2 linked regions of the Homo sapiens genome follow. The protein of the gene in region 2 binds, or shares a complex with, the protein of the main gene of each other region. Each region holds a gene or a part of one and is shown on either strand. Other genes may lie near its edges. The genes, in order: RAB8A and RILPL2.

The links.
Region 1: the proteins of RILPL2 (region 2) and RAB8A are in contact, whole or in part, in a crystal structure (PDB 6SQ2), measured with the Homo sapiens proteins. Residues at the interface, in NP_659495.1 of Homo sapiens: Leu135, Leu138, Arg139, Leu142, Gln143, Arg145, Asn146, Lys149, Ser150, Leu153, Glu157; in NP_005361.2 of Homo sapiens: Ile41, Gly42, Ile43, Asp44, Phe45, Lys46, Ile47, Lys58, Trp62, Phe70, Ile73, Tyr77.

The regions. Positions count from the first base shown.
Region 1 is NC_000019.10:16,128,889-16,135,010, reverse strand, and holds the end of RAB8A (ras-related protein Rab-8A), read right to left. Parts: intron 5,458-6,122; coding exon 5,407-5,457; intron 2,800-5,406; coding exon 2,707-2,799; 3' UTR 777-2,706; downstream 1-776. UniProt on the Homo sapiens protein: The small GTPases Rab are key regulators of intracellular membrane trafficking, from the formation of transport vesicles to their fusion with membranes.
Region 2 is NC_000012.12:123,433,646-123,440,957, forward strand, and holds the start of RILPL2 (RILP-like protein 2), read right to left. Parts: upstream 3,040-7,312; 5' UTR 2,776-3,039; coding exon 2,437-2,775; intron 1-2,436. UniProt on the Homo sapiens protein: Involved in cell shape and neuronal morphogenesis, positively regulating the establishment and maintenance of dendritic spines. Plays a role in cellular protein transport, including protein transport away from primary cilia.

The sequences.
Region 1 (6,122 bases), on a different chromosome or scaffold from region 2:
GCATGCGCCACTGCACCCGGCCAATTTTTGTACTTTTTTTTTTTTTTTTTTAGAGATGGGGTCTCACTATGTTGTCCAGGATGGTCTTTAACTTGAACTGGCCTCAAGCTATTCCCCTGCCTCTGCCTCTCAAGGCACTGGGATTATAGGCATAAGCCACACACCCCAGCCCCTGGGGAGAGCTTTAAGCAAGGAGGTGACACTGATTTCAGTTTCGTAAGGACACTCTGAAAATAGTTTGAAACACAGAGGTGAGGACCTGAAACCCATGAGGAAGTGGTCACAGAGGTCCAGGTGGTCGTGGCTACAACTCGGGAGGGGTCAGCTGTGGGCACGATGGGGAAGGCAGGGATGGAGTCCAGGGTCAGGGCTGTGTTATGCTTACGGTGCCGATGAGACATTCAAATTGGAATAGAGAGTGGCAGGTGAAACCGACCTGGGTCTGGCCTGGATTTGCAGCTTGAAAGCCACTGGCCTATCTAAAAGCATAGTGTGTGCAGAAAAGAATGAATAGATCTGAGGCTGCTTCCTGAGAAAGGCCTGCTGGCAAGGTGGGCCTGCAGTTGGTAAAGTTCCCTACGGATATTAAAACTTCCCTACATGCGTGGCTCATACACTTTCTGTACAAGTGATGCGGTTTATGCTAAACCCCTGCTTTCTTTGTAGGAGTCTGGAATCCTGATAAGTGCCAGGTAGAGGGTTCCTATGTGACTGGCTCCATAAACACCTGGGTACAGAACTGCCAACTAGCTTTCACAAAAGACACATTACACACCTGTTGTTACAACTCATTGTTGGGGGAGTTAAGCATGGGGTGTGTGACCCCACTGTGAGAGGATTCTGGATGCTTCTGTCTGGTTGCCTCTGGACTTCACTCTGCATGCCTTTTCCCTTTGCTGATTTTGCTGTGATCTTGGCTGTGAGTACAGCTCTCTGCCAAGTCCTAGGGAATGACTGGACCTGGGTGTGGTCTTGGGAAGGACCCTGGATAGAGTGGAAGGAATGCCCTGGAAAGCCAGCCAGGAGAGGGCCCCTAGAAGGACCTGCCAGGGAGGCAGGAGGGACACAGTGGCCGAGCTGTGTGCCAGAAGCCAGGTGACGCAGGCTCACCATGTTGGCCAGGCTGGTCTCGAACACCTGAGCTCAAGTGATCAGCCCGCCTTGGCCTCCCAGAGTGCTGGGATTACAGGTGTGAGCCACTGCACCAAGCCAGGAGGCTTCTTTTCCCAATTTAGTCTTTTGATGATGGGTGGCATCTCCTCTGAGGTGGCCGCTCGATGGGGTAATCCATGGGCTCTACCATCTTGTCCAGACCCACCCCCAGCACCTGGCCATGTCCGTGTGGCCTACAGGGAAAATGTGGACATAAAAATCCTTGGACTTTAAGATGAGCTTTAATTTGTTTGTTTTCCTTAAGTGCATTTATCGATGTAAACAGAGCATGTTAGAGATTCCCGGGGAGAGCAGACTATTGCTGATATGTTGGTTTTAATTCAAAAGAAACGATGATGCCAATGGTTTGGATTGACAGCAGCTTAAGGAGGAAAAAAAAAAAAAGAAAGAAAAAAAGAAAAGGCTGGTGACACCCCCCTGGCGTGGTTGACCTGGTCCCAGTCGCAGTCCCTATGGGACAGCAGAGCTGTCAAAACAGAACCCAATGATGACGGCTGAAAATCAAGCCAGACTGCTGTGCGGTCAGCTTGCCGCCGTGGAATGCCTTGTGTCTTGGCCATGTCCAGCCAAGGGTACAACGTGCTTGTTCCCGATCACCCAGGTTTGCCATTGGAAGTCAAAGACAGAATCGCTTCATGGCACTACAGATGTGGAAAAATAAAAATCTCAGCTAGAAAGAACGTCCGATTTGGAGATAGCGGGAGGACACGAAGGAGTGGGGGCCATTTTGGTGCTGAGAGGAGGGTGCCCCAACTTCAGGAGGACCATGTGACGGCTGTGGTTGTTTTCGGGGTCACTTGCAGCACACACAGCGTCCCCTTGATGCTCGATGGGGACCGCAGACGGGCCTGCAGACCTAACCCCTGGCTGTGGACAGGAGAGGCTGCTCCAGGCTTCTTTCCTTCTCAATGCTTTACACAGGATTTCCTTCATTTGTGCTTTCCTTTGGTTTAACAGTTAAAAAAGAAGAGTGAGGGGGCAAAATGGTTTGTCACTTGTCCAAAACTGAGAGAAGAGGTGGAAGTGGGCGCCAAATCTCCTGGGTGATGCTTCCTGGTCCTGGCGATCGGTTGCCTTGCTCAGGGTTTGGGAGCTGTTGCTCCTGGAACCACCGCTGGCCTTCTGGGACCTCGCTTCCGTGGTAGGGGACGTGAACCAGCCTCCTGGTGGAGCTTTGTGTTGCAGTGAGGCCACAAAGCAAAGGCCCAGAGGCAGAGGCCTGACACTGGCTGTGGTCGACGGTCACACCTTGACTCCCTCTCTCTCTCTGAATATACAACGTGTGGGTGGGCCCGTTCAGCAGATGTTACAGGAAAAATAGCAAATTTTTAACTTATTCCATCTCCAAAGTTGAAAAAGATCAGACAGTTACTAAAATAAACGATTTCTCAATTGCATTCTGGTGGCCGTGGGCCCGGTGGCCGCGGCGTGGGCGGGGCGTTGGAGGTGGGAGGGCCCCGGCTGAGTGAGGGGCTCACTCAGAACAGGCACAGTCAGCTGGGCTGAGCGAGGCTCAGAGTAAGGCGGTGTTCCTCACAGAAGAACACATCGGAAAAAGCTGCTCCTCTTCTGCTGGTCCGGTGTGATTTTGACTCCCTGGTTGCTCCCCTGGGGGCTGTTGCCTTCCTGAAATCACAAGAGGTTTTCTGAGGTTATCACTGAGAATCAGCACTACGTCTCACAATCAACCAGCCATCCACCTAACCATCCACCTAACCATCCATCCAACCATCCAACCAACCAACCAACCAACCAACCAAACAACCAAACCAATCAAACCAGCCAAACCAACCAACTAACCAACGAGCCATCCAACCATCCATCCATCATCTGCCAGGTCATCCATCCATTACCATTCCAGCCATCCAACCAACCAATCAGCCATCAAACCATCCATCCATCATCTGCCAGTCCGTCCAGCTGTCCCCTTCCAACCATCCAACCAACCAACCAACCAACCAACCAACCAACCAACCAACCAACCATCCATCTATACCCTTTCAACCATCCATCCATCCACTCACCCATTCCCTTCCATCCGTCTATCCACCTGCTTCCAACCAACAAACCAATCAACCAACCATCCATCCCTTCCAACCAAGAACCATCCACTCATCCATCCCTTTCCAACCATCCATCTTCTTCCAACCATCCATCCCCTTCCAACCAACCAACCAACCATCCATCCCCTTCTAACCACCTCATCCAACCAACCATCCATCCATCCCTTTCCAACCATCCATCCACCCATCCATCTCCTTCCCCCCATCCACCCTCTTCCAACTAACCATCTCCTTCTAACCACCCCTTCTGACCAATCAACCATCCATCCATCCCCTTCCAAGCAACCACCTCCTTCCAACCAACCATTCATCCATCCCCTTCCAACCAACCAACAAACCAATCATCTATCTATCCAACCATCTCCTTCCAACAAATCAACCATCGATTTATTCCCTTTCAACCAACCATCCATCCATTATCTTCTACCCATCCATCCAATTCTCTTACAACTGATAATTCGTTTTTCAGAAACAGATCTATTTTCCATCTGCTATATACCACCCCTTCCAACCACTCTCTCACTTATCTGCCCACCCCATCATACCCTTCCCAGCACTTTGGGAGGCTGAGGCAGAAGAACTGCTTGAGCCCAGGAGTTTGAGTCCAGCCTGGGTAACAAGTGAGATCCTGCCTCTTAAAAAAGAAAAAATGGCCAGGCGGGGTGGCCCACACCTGTAATCCCAACACTTTGGGAGGCCGAGGCAGGTGGATCACCTGAGGTCAGGAGTTCAAGACCAGCCTGACCAACATGGTGAAGCCTCGTCTCTACTAAAAATACAAAAATTAGCTGGGCGTGGTGACATGTGCCTGTAATCCCAAGTACTCGGGAGGTTGAGTCAGAAGAACCGCTTGAACCTGGGAGGCAGAGGTTGCAGTGAGCAGGGATTGCACCATTGCACTCTAGCCTGGGCAACAGAGCGAGACTCCTTCTCAAAAAAAAAGAAAAAGAAAAAAAATTAGCCAGGCATGGTGGTGTGTGCTTATAGCCCCAGCTACTTGGGAGGCGGAGGTGGGAGGATTGCTTGAGCCCAGGAGTTGAAGGCTGCAGTGAGCTGTGATGGTGCCACTGCACTCCAGCCTAGGTGGCAAAGTGAGACTCTAAAAAAAAAATCTCTTTTTTAACTAATAAGAAAACTAAAAGAAAAAAGAATCAGACCTTGACCATTATACTGAAGAAAAAAAATTGCAAGAAAATCCCAAATTATTGTTGGTCAGTGCACTGGTTTCCATGAACTGTTTCCCATTTTAATTTAATGGCCAAAGAGCTGCTATTAAATCAATCACATGCCTCACTGTTCAACACACCGCATCTTAGAATTACAAAACAGATTTGCTTACATCAGATGTAAAACTTGAACGGCATTTTGTATTTTATGTGCATTCTCAAGTGACCAGACTTAACCCACAAATAGAGCGCCGTGTGCTCCTCGATTGGACAACCAATGTAACATGGCCGGGAAAGGGCAGTTGCTGGAACCAGGGCGAGGGAGGAAGGGTCACTACGGTGTTTAGGCACTAAATGCCCCCAAAGTACAGGGAAGTGTTTGATTCCATCAAGAAAGCACCATTGATACTGAGCGCAGCGGACTAGGAAATCGCTAACGTGGTAAAAAAAAAAAAGCAAGAAACGAATGAGAGGGTAGATGGGTAGGGATTCATGCAGACTTCCCTGGAGGCCTCAGAGAACCCTGGGACACAATGAAGGTTGCAGAGCTGTCACAACTTGTAGCATCTGGGGCTGGGGTGGAGCGGGGGCAGGTTCTTGATCTGCCATGCTTGTCAAGACGATGAGCCAGCAGTTATCAGACACCAGCCCTGGCCCTGCCCAAGCGACCTAGGAAGCTTTTCTCCGAGCCATGGCTCTCTGTCCTTGCACACCATGTTGTCTTTCTGGCCCTTGAGTGGAATGGAAAAGGCCGTGTGCTCCCTGCTAGCCTGGGGATTCACCGGGCACGGCCTTGTCTGCTTGGGCAGCGTCCCCAGGCTGGCACTGCCTGATGCTGATGCCCCAGCCACACCTGCAAACTCTTCCCCCTTTCCCAGCAATGTCCCATGGGGTCTGGCTGGGCCCTAAAAAGCAGGATCTAGGGCACGTCATATCACTGCTGCTAACGACGATGGCTGGATCCCAGAGATCCACCCGGGGATCTCGGAAGGACACACACTCACCAATTTTTTGTCCATTTTTGCTTTGATATCTCTGGCGAGAGTGAAAAATGCCTGTGGAATAAGCACATTGTGAGTCCTTGGGATGGCAGGACCCTGAGTCCTCAGCCGCCCGTGTACAGCGGGTGTGGTGAGACAGCTTCCCAGGCGTGGGCCTCCCATTTGGCCCTTTGATGCCCGCCTCTGGCAGTGGGTTCATCTGGCCTGTCCGGCCCCAGCTCATCCTTCCCCGGCTCCCTCTGCCTCCCACCCACCCTTACTCTCTGACATCAACTCTCACTTCCGCAGAGCACCTTAGCATTGACGGGACTTTACGCATGTGCCACCTCCCCTAAGCCCTGTGAGATGGGGCGACACTCAGTTGGCCAGAGAGGAAACTGAGGCTCAGAGAGGCCAAGTGACTTGTCCAAAGGAACCCAGCAGTTAACCGACCAATCCAGAAGGATCTAGGAGTGCCCAGTTCTTTGTCTCTGACTCCTAGGTTCTGTCAGCTCTGGCCTCCCTTCTGATGGTCAGGGAAAAAGGCAAGCAGCTCTGTGGCCAAACAAGCTTCACTCGGAGTCCTTGCCTGGCAGGGCTGGGAGCGGGAGCAGGTTCATCTCCCAGCACAGCCAAGGGTTGAGCTGCTGTCACAGCCTTGAGGAGGGGACATACAGAGATGGCGGGAGGCGTGATCCCAACATACATCCCCATGATGTGGGAGGTTCTGGAGAGGAGAG
Region 2 (7,312 bases):
AAGCGATCTGCCTGCCTCGACCTCCCAAAGTGTTGGGATTACAGGTGTGAGCCACCGCGCCTGGCCTGGTTTGTATACTTGTATTCTGGTTCTAGGACTGTGTGTCTGACCTCTCCCACTAGATGTGAGCTTCTTGAGGGCAGGGACCTTGTCTACGTTATCTCCATAGCCCCAGAGCCTAGCATCAGTCACTGCAGTCACTCATCAAATGTTAGTACAAGTAAGGTCAAATGTCTGTATTTTAGGATGGAGTATTTAGGACTAGCATCTCTGAATTAAGATCCTGACTTCACCTCTTAACTTGCCGTGAAGTCCTTAGGTAAATTACTTAACTGTTCTGTGCCTCAGTTTTGTAAAACAATAATAGTCTGAGGATTAAAAAAGACATCGTCCACTTACAGCAGCTTTTTTGTTTTTCTTTTTTAACTGTGGCTGGAGACCTGCTAGTAGGTCATAAAATTAATGAGTTTCGACAAGAATTTTAAAAACTAGGCTGGGCATGGTGGCTCAGGCCTGTAATCCCAGCACTTTGGGAGGCTGAGGTGGGCGTATCACTTAAGCCCAGGAGTTCGAGACCAGCCTGGGCAACATGGTGAGACCCCCATCTCTACAAAAATACAAAAATTAGCCAGGTGGTTGGTGTGTGCCTGTAGTCCTAGCTACTGGAGAGGCTGAAGTGGGAGGACTGCTTGAGCCCAGGAGTTTGAGGCCTCAGTGAGCTGTGATCACACCATGGTATTCCAGCCTGGATGACAGAGAAAGCTGTCCCCGCAAAAAAGACTTTTTTTTTTTTTTTGAGACAAAATCTCGCTCTGTCACCCAACCTGGAGTGCAGTGGCGCGATCTCGGCTCACTGCAACCTCTGCCTTCCGGTTTCAAGCAATTCTCCGGCCTCAGCCTCCCGAGTAGCTGGGATTACAGGCACCCGCCACCACGCCCGGCTAATTTTTTTCTGTAGTTTTAGTAGAGATAGAGTTTCACCATGTTGGCCAGGCTGGTCTCAAATTCCTGACCTTGTGATCTGCCCGCCTTGGCCTCCCAAAGTGCTGGGATTACAGGCGTGAGTCACAGCACCCAGCCAGATGATTTTTAACATATGTGTAGATCCCTATATCCATACCCTGATTAAGATATGGGACACTTCTAGCTCTCTATCAATTTCCCTTCTTTTCCCCCCACCACCAGTTTGCCTTCTATAACTATAAATTATTTTGCCTGTTCATGAATTTTATTTAAATGTACAGTAGGGCTGGGTGCTGTGGCTCAGGCCTGTAATCCCAGCACTTTGGAAGGCTGAGGTGGGTGGGTCACTTGAGGCCAGGAGTTTGAGACCAGCCTGGCCAACATGGTGAAACCCCGTCTCTACCAAAAAAGAAAAAAAAAAAATAGCCACGCGTGGTGGCACACGCTTGCAATCCCAGCTGCTCAGGAGGCTGAGGCAGGAGAATCGCTTGAATCCAGGAGGTGGAGGTTGCAGTGAGTCGAGGTCACGCCACTGCACTACAGTCTGAGCAACAGAGCAAGATTCTGACTCAAAAAAAAAAAAAATCTACAGTAGTTTCTCTTTAGTGCCTGGCTTCTTTCTCTCAATGTTACATCTGTGAGATTCATTCACACTGCTGTGTGTATCAGCACCCCGTTCTTTTTCTCTGTTGCATAGTATTCCATATATCACAATTTCAAAACTCAATTGGGTTGCATTTAGAGTGTTTCCAGTTTGGCAGCTGAGACTAAAGCTGCTCTGAATCTTCTTGTCTATGTCTTTTTGTGGTCATATGCACTAATTTCTCTTTAGGTAAAATGTGTTTCTTGTCCAAGTGTGGTGGCTCACATCCACAAGCCCAGCACTTTGGGAGGCCAAGGTGGGAGGATTCCTTGAGCTTAGGAGTTTGAGACCAGCCTGGGTAACGGTGAGACCCCCATCTCTACAAAACATCAAAAAAGTTAGCCAGGCATGGTGGCACATGCCTGTACTCCCAGCTACTTGGAAGGGCAAGGCAGGAGAATTGCTTGAGCCTAGGAGGCCAAGGCTGTAGTGAGCCGTGTTTGCACCACTGCACTCTAGCCTGGGAGATAGAGCAGGACCCTGTGTCAAAAGAAAAAAAAAGTGTTTCTTGCTCTAGGTCAAAGGTTCTCAAACTGTGGACCCTGGGCCAATAGCATCAGCATTAACTGCGAACTCGTTAGAAATACAGATTCTGGCCAGGCAGGGTGGCTCACACCTGTAAACCCAGCACTCTAGGAGGCTGAGGCTGGGGGATCACTTGGAGCCAGGAGTTTGAGACCAGCCTGGGCAACACAGCGAGATCCCATCTCTTAAAAAAAGAAAAAAGAGAAAAGAGAAGAGAAAAGAAAAGGAAGGCGTCTCCCTGCCAGTAGGTGCCCTCCTACGCCCCGCAGGCGCCGTGGGCCCGGAACCCTCGCTCCCACACTCACCTCCCCGCTGGCCGGAGGGCTCTGTCTCCGCAGCCCCTCCACCTCCTTCCTGAGGTGGTCCCTCTCCATCTTCAGCTCCTCCAGCGCCAGGCTGCCCTCATTCACCAGCGCCTCCAGCATCTCCAGGACGCGGACGACTTTGAACTGCAGCTGCGTCACCCGGGGGTCGCTGCCCAGGGCCATAAGCTCGCGGCCCAACAGGTAGGAGATGTCATACACGTCCTCGGCGGTCAGCTGGAAGGGGCTCTTGCCCAGCGCCCCCTCGGGCCCAACCTCGTCCCTCTCCTCGTCCTCCTCTCCCTCCTCCTCTTCCTCTTCTCGCACAGGGGGCTCCTCCATGGCCACCCAGACCCCCGCCGACCTCGGAGCTGCTGTCTTGGAGTCTCCCAAAGGTTAGACTTCCTCCCGGCACCCAAAACTTTCCGCTGGGCAGAGTCCCTACCTGCCCAATCAGCGCGGCCCGGGGGTGGGCCCGGGGGGATGGTGCAAGGGGCCGCGCACGCGACTCTTGGGCCTGCGCCCCGGCGCACCGTCCCCGCTGCCAGCCACGCTGGAGAGTGCGCTCCAGGATGTGGTTTGGGGCGCGAAGGGACAACGGAAAAGGAGGCAGCCGAGAAGAGGAACGGGGAAGTTCAGGGGTGACGGCAATCGCCCCAGCCTGGGAACAGTTGCAGCCCCGGGGAGGAGCCGCCCTGAGCCCCGCCCCTGGCGACCGCTGCCAGGAGGTGCGTTTCCGTGGAGACGGAGTTTCCACCGTGCAATCCAGAGCGGGGTAAAAAGAACGCAACTTTTTCCTTTCCACCCTCGTGCTTTCCAGCCGTAGAATTTGCATCGTAGGTGATGGAAGATCCGGGTGTCTCTTTGAGGGTGTTTTCTGGAGCCTGCGGCCAAACAGAAAGCAGCTGCTGGGGGCAGCGCGACAGAGTCCCCGAGGCTTGAGGATCTGGAAAACTCCCAGGCAAATTGTCACTAGGGCCTGGGGCGTCCGACTTCGCTGTGACTCTCAATAAAATGGAGAATGTCTGCCCTGCTCACTTCGCTGGGTCCTCGGCTCCTCCACGTAACCAGCGCTGTCACCTTGGCAAGTTACTTAACGTCTCCGAGCCTCAGTCTCCTCCTCTGTAAAATGGGGACAATAGCGGGACCCAGGTGGCAGGGTTGCTGCGAGGAACATGAGCTTATGAGATCATGTGTGCGACACCTCAAGCACTTAGGAAGCACTCACATACGTGACTGCAATCCTTCATTCTTTCTTTCTTTCTTTCTTTCTTTTTTTTTTTGAGACGGAGTCTCCCTGTGTCGCCCAGGCTGGAGTGCAGTGGCGCGATCTCGGCTTGCTGCAAGCTCCGCCTCCCAGGTTCACGCCATTCTCCTGCCTCAGCCTCCCGAGTAGCTGGGACTACAGGCACGCGCCACCACGCCCGGCTAATTTTTTTGTATTTTTAGTAGAGACGGGGTTTCACCATGTTCGCCAGGATGGTCTCGATCTCCTGACCTCGTGATCCACCTGCCTCGGCCTCCCAAAGTGCTGGGATTACAGGCGTGAGCCACCGCGCCCGGCCCCTTCATTCTTTCTTCCACAGCGCTAGGGAGGAATTGCTGGTGTTGGAGACACCTTGCTACTTGGGTGAGAGAAGGAGGAGTAATTAACAAGAGAGAAACCCCTGTCTGAAAATCACAAAGCATTCGACACATATGCGGAATCCATATTACTGAGAATATTAGCAGAGTGGCGTAGAAACTTGAGTCATTCGCTGTGGCTCATGCCTTAATCTCAACACTTCAGGAGGCTGACGCAGGAGGATTGCTTGAGCCCAGGAATTTGAGACTAGCTTGGGCATCATAGTGAGACCCTGTCTCTACAAAAAGTAAACAAAAGTAGCTGGACACAGTGGTTCATGCCTGTAGTGGCAGGTACTCGGGAGGCTGAGGTGGGAGGACCACTTGAGCCCGGGATGTTGAGGCTGCAGTGAGCCAAGATCTCACCACAGAGTGGTGCCTGTGACAGAGTGGGACCATGGTGACAGAGTAAGATCATGTCTCAAAAAAAAAGGCACAACAAATCTCAAGTTATTTTAGGTTTCACTGGAGGTTTGTGATAGTCTCAGGCAGAAAGCTCAGCAACGGGGCTTGTCTTTCCCAGGAATGTATTGGCAGCTTTCCTTGTGATAGGTGTATCCATTTTCTCCACACTGAGGTACTAGAATCTCAATGGAGAATGTACATAGATTAAACCAACCAACAAAAGCAAAGCAAATTAACAAAACACACTATTTTCAGAGGGTCGTTTCTTTTTATTTTATTTTATTTTATTTTATTTATTTGTTTATTTATTTATTTAGAGACAGAATCTTGCTCTGTTGCCCAGGCTGGAGCTCAGTGGCATGATCTCGGCTCACCGCAACCTCCGCCTCCCTGGTTAAAGCAATTCTTCTACCTCAGCCTCCCCAGTAGCTGGGACCACAGGCGCATGCCGCCCCGCCTGGCTAATTTTTTGTATTTTAGTAGAGATGGGGTTTCACTGTGCTGCCCAGGCTGGTCGCGAACTCCTGAGCTCGGGCAATCCTCCCACCTGGGCCTCCCAAAGTGCTAGGATTACGGGCGTAAGCCACCCTGCCTGGCCTATTTTACTTTTATAAAATAAAAAAGTCAGGCCGAGATGGGCGGATCACGAGGTCAGGAGACCGAGACCATCCTGGCTAACACGGTGAAACCCTGTCTCTACTAAAAATACAAAAAAAATTAGCCGGGTGTAGTGGCGGGCGCCTGTAGTCCCAGCTACTCGGGAGGCTGAGGCAGGAGAATGGCGTGAACCCGGGGACAGAGCTTGCAGTGAGCCGAGATCGCGCCACTGCACTCCAGCCTGGGCAACAGAGCAAGACTCGGTCTCAAAAAAAATAAATAAAAATAAATAAATAAATAAATAATAAATAATAAAAAAATAAAATAAATAAAAAAGCCTCACTCTGTTGCCTAGGTTGGAGTGCAGTGACACGATCTCGGCTCACTGCAACCTCTGCCTTCCAGGTTCAAGCGATTCTCCTGCCTCAGCAGCCCCACCCCGAGTAGCTGGGATTACAGGCACGCGCCACCATGCATGGCTAATTTTTTGTATTTTTAGTAGAGACGGGATTTTACCATGTTGCCCAGGCTGGTCTCCAACTCCTGACCTCAGGATGATCCACCTGCCTCAGCCTCCCAAAGTGCTGGGATTACAGGCATGAGCCACCATGCTTAGCCTTTCTTCTTCTTCTTTTTTTTTTTTTTTGAGATGGAGTTTTGCTCTTGTAGCCCAGGCTGGAGTGCAGTGGCATGATCTCTGCTCATTGCAACCTCTGCCTCCTGGGTTCAAGCGATTCTCCTGCCTCAGCCTTGCAAGTAGCTGGGATTATAGGCGCCCACCACCACACCCAGCTAAGTTTTGTATTTTTAGTAGAGACAGGGTTTCACCCTGTTGGCCAGGATGGTCTCCAACTCCTGACCTCAGGTGATCTGCCCGCCTCTCCCTCCCAAAGTGCTGGGATTACAGGCATGAGCCCAGCCTATTTTTTCTTAAGAGATGAGGCTTTGCTCTGTCACCCCAGCTGGAGTGCAGTGGCATGATCACAGCTCACTGCAGCCTTGAACTCCTGGGCTTAAGTGATCCTCCCACCTCAGCCTCCTGAGTAGCTGGGCCTACAGGTGCTTGCCACCATACCTGGCTAATTTTTTTTTTTTTTTTTTTTTTTTTGAGACAGAGTCTTGCTCTGTTGCCCAGGCTGGAGTGCAGTGGTGCAATCTCGGCTCACTGCAAGCTCCGCCTCCCGGGTTCATGCCATTCTCCTGCCTCAGCCTCCGAAGTAGCTGGGACTACAGGCGCCCGCCACCACGCCCGGCTAATTTTTTGTATGTTTTAGTAGAGACAGGGTTTCACCATGTTAGCCAGGATGGTCTCGATCTCCTGACCCCGTGATCCGCCTGCCTTGGCCTCCCAAAGTGCTGGGATTACAGGCATGAGCCACCGCACCCTGCCTTTCTTTCTTTTTTTTTTTTAAGAGACAAGGCCTCGTTCTGTCGCCCTGGCTGGTCTCAAAATCCTGGCCTCAAGTAATCCTCCCACTTTGGCCTCCCAAAGTGCGAGGATTACAGGAATAAGCCACTGTGCCCCGCCAGGAATGTTGTAATAATCAAAACGAAGCTCCTGGGCAAGGGCCTAGAAGTCCACAAATCACAGAGTGACAACATCTAGTGGTTAAATACTGAGATGAAATATTAGGCCTGCCATACATAAAAGAGGGTATGCCCATCCAATAGAATAGTATTCAGCCATAACAAAGAATGAAAAATAAAATAGCTCGTAAATAAATTGTTGCATATATTGGCAAATGATTTTCAATAAGGGAGCCAAGACCATTCAATGGGGCAAGGACAGTCTTTTCAACCAATGGAGTTCACCATATACAAAAAATTAACTCAAAGTGCATCTAAGGGCCATCACAGTGGCCAGGAGTTGGAGAACAGTCTGGGCAATACAGTGAGAACAATCTCTACAAAAAGTAAAAATGGAGCCAGGTGCCGTGGCTCACGCCTGTAATCCCAACACTTTGGGAGATGGAGGTGGGCAGATCACTTGAGGTCAGGAGTTCGAGACCAGCCTGGCCAACCTGGTGATGGAGAATGGAGAGTTGTCGTTTAATGGGGATAGAGTTTCAGTTTTGCAAGATCAGAAAGTTCTGGAGATTGGCTGCACGTGAGCCACTGTGCCCGGTCAAGAGATGTTAATTTTGAGGGGCCTGGTGGCTCATGCCTGTAATCCCACAGCACATTGGGAGGCTTACGCCTGATGATTATTTGAGGCCAGGAGTTCCAGACCAGCCTAGGCAACAAAGTGAGATCC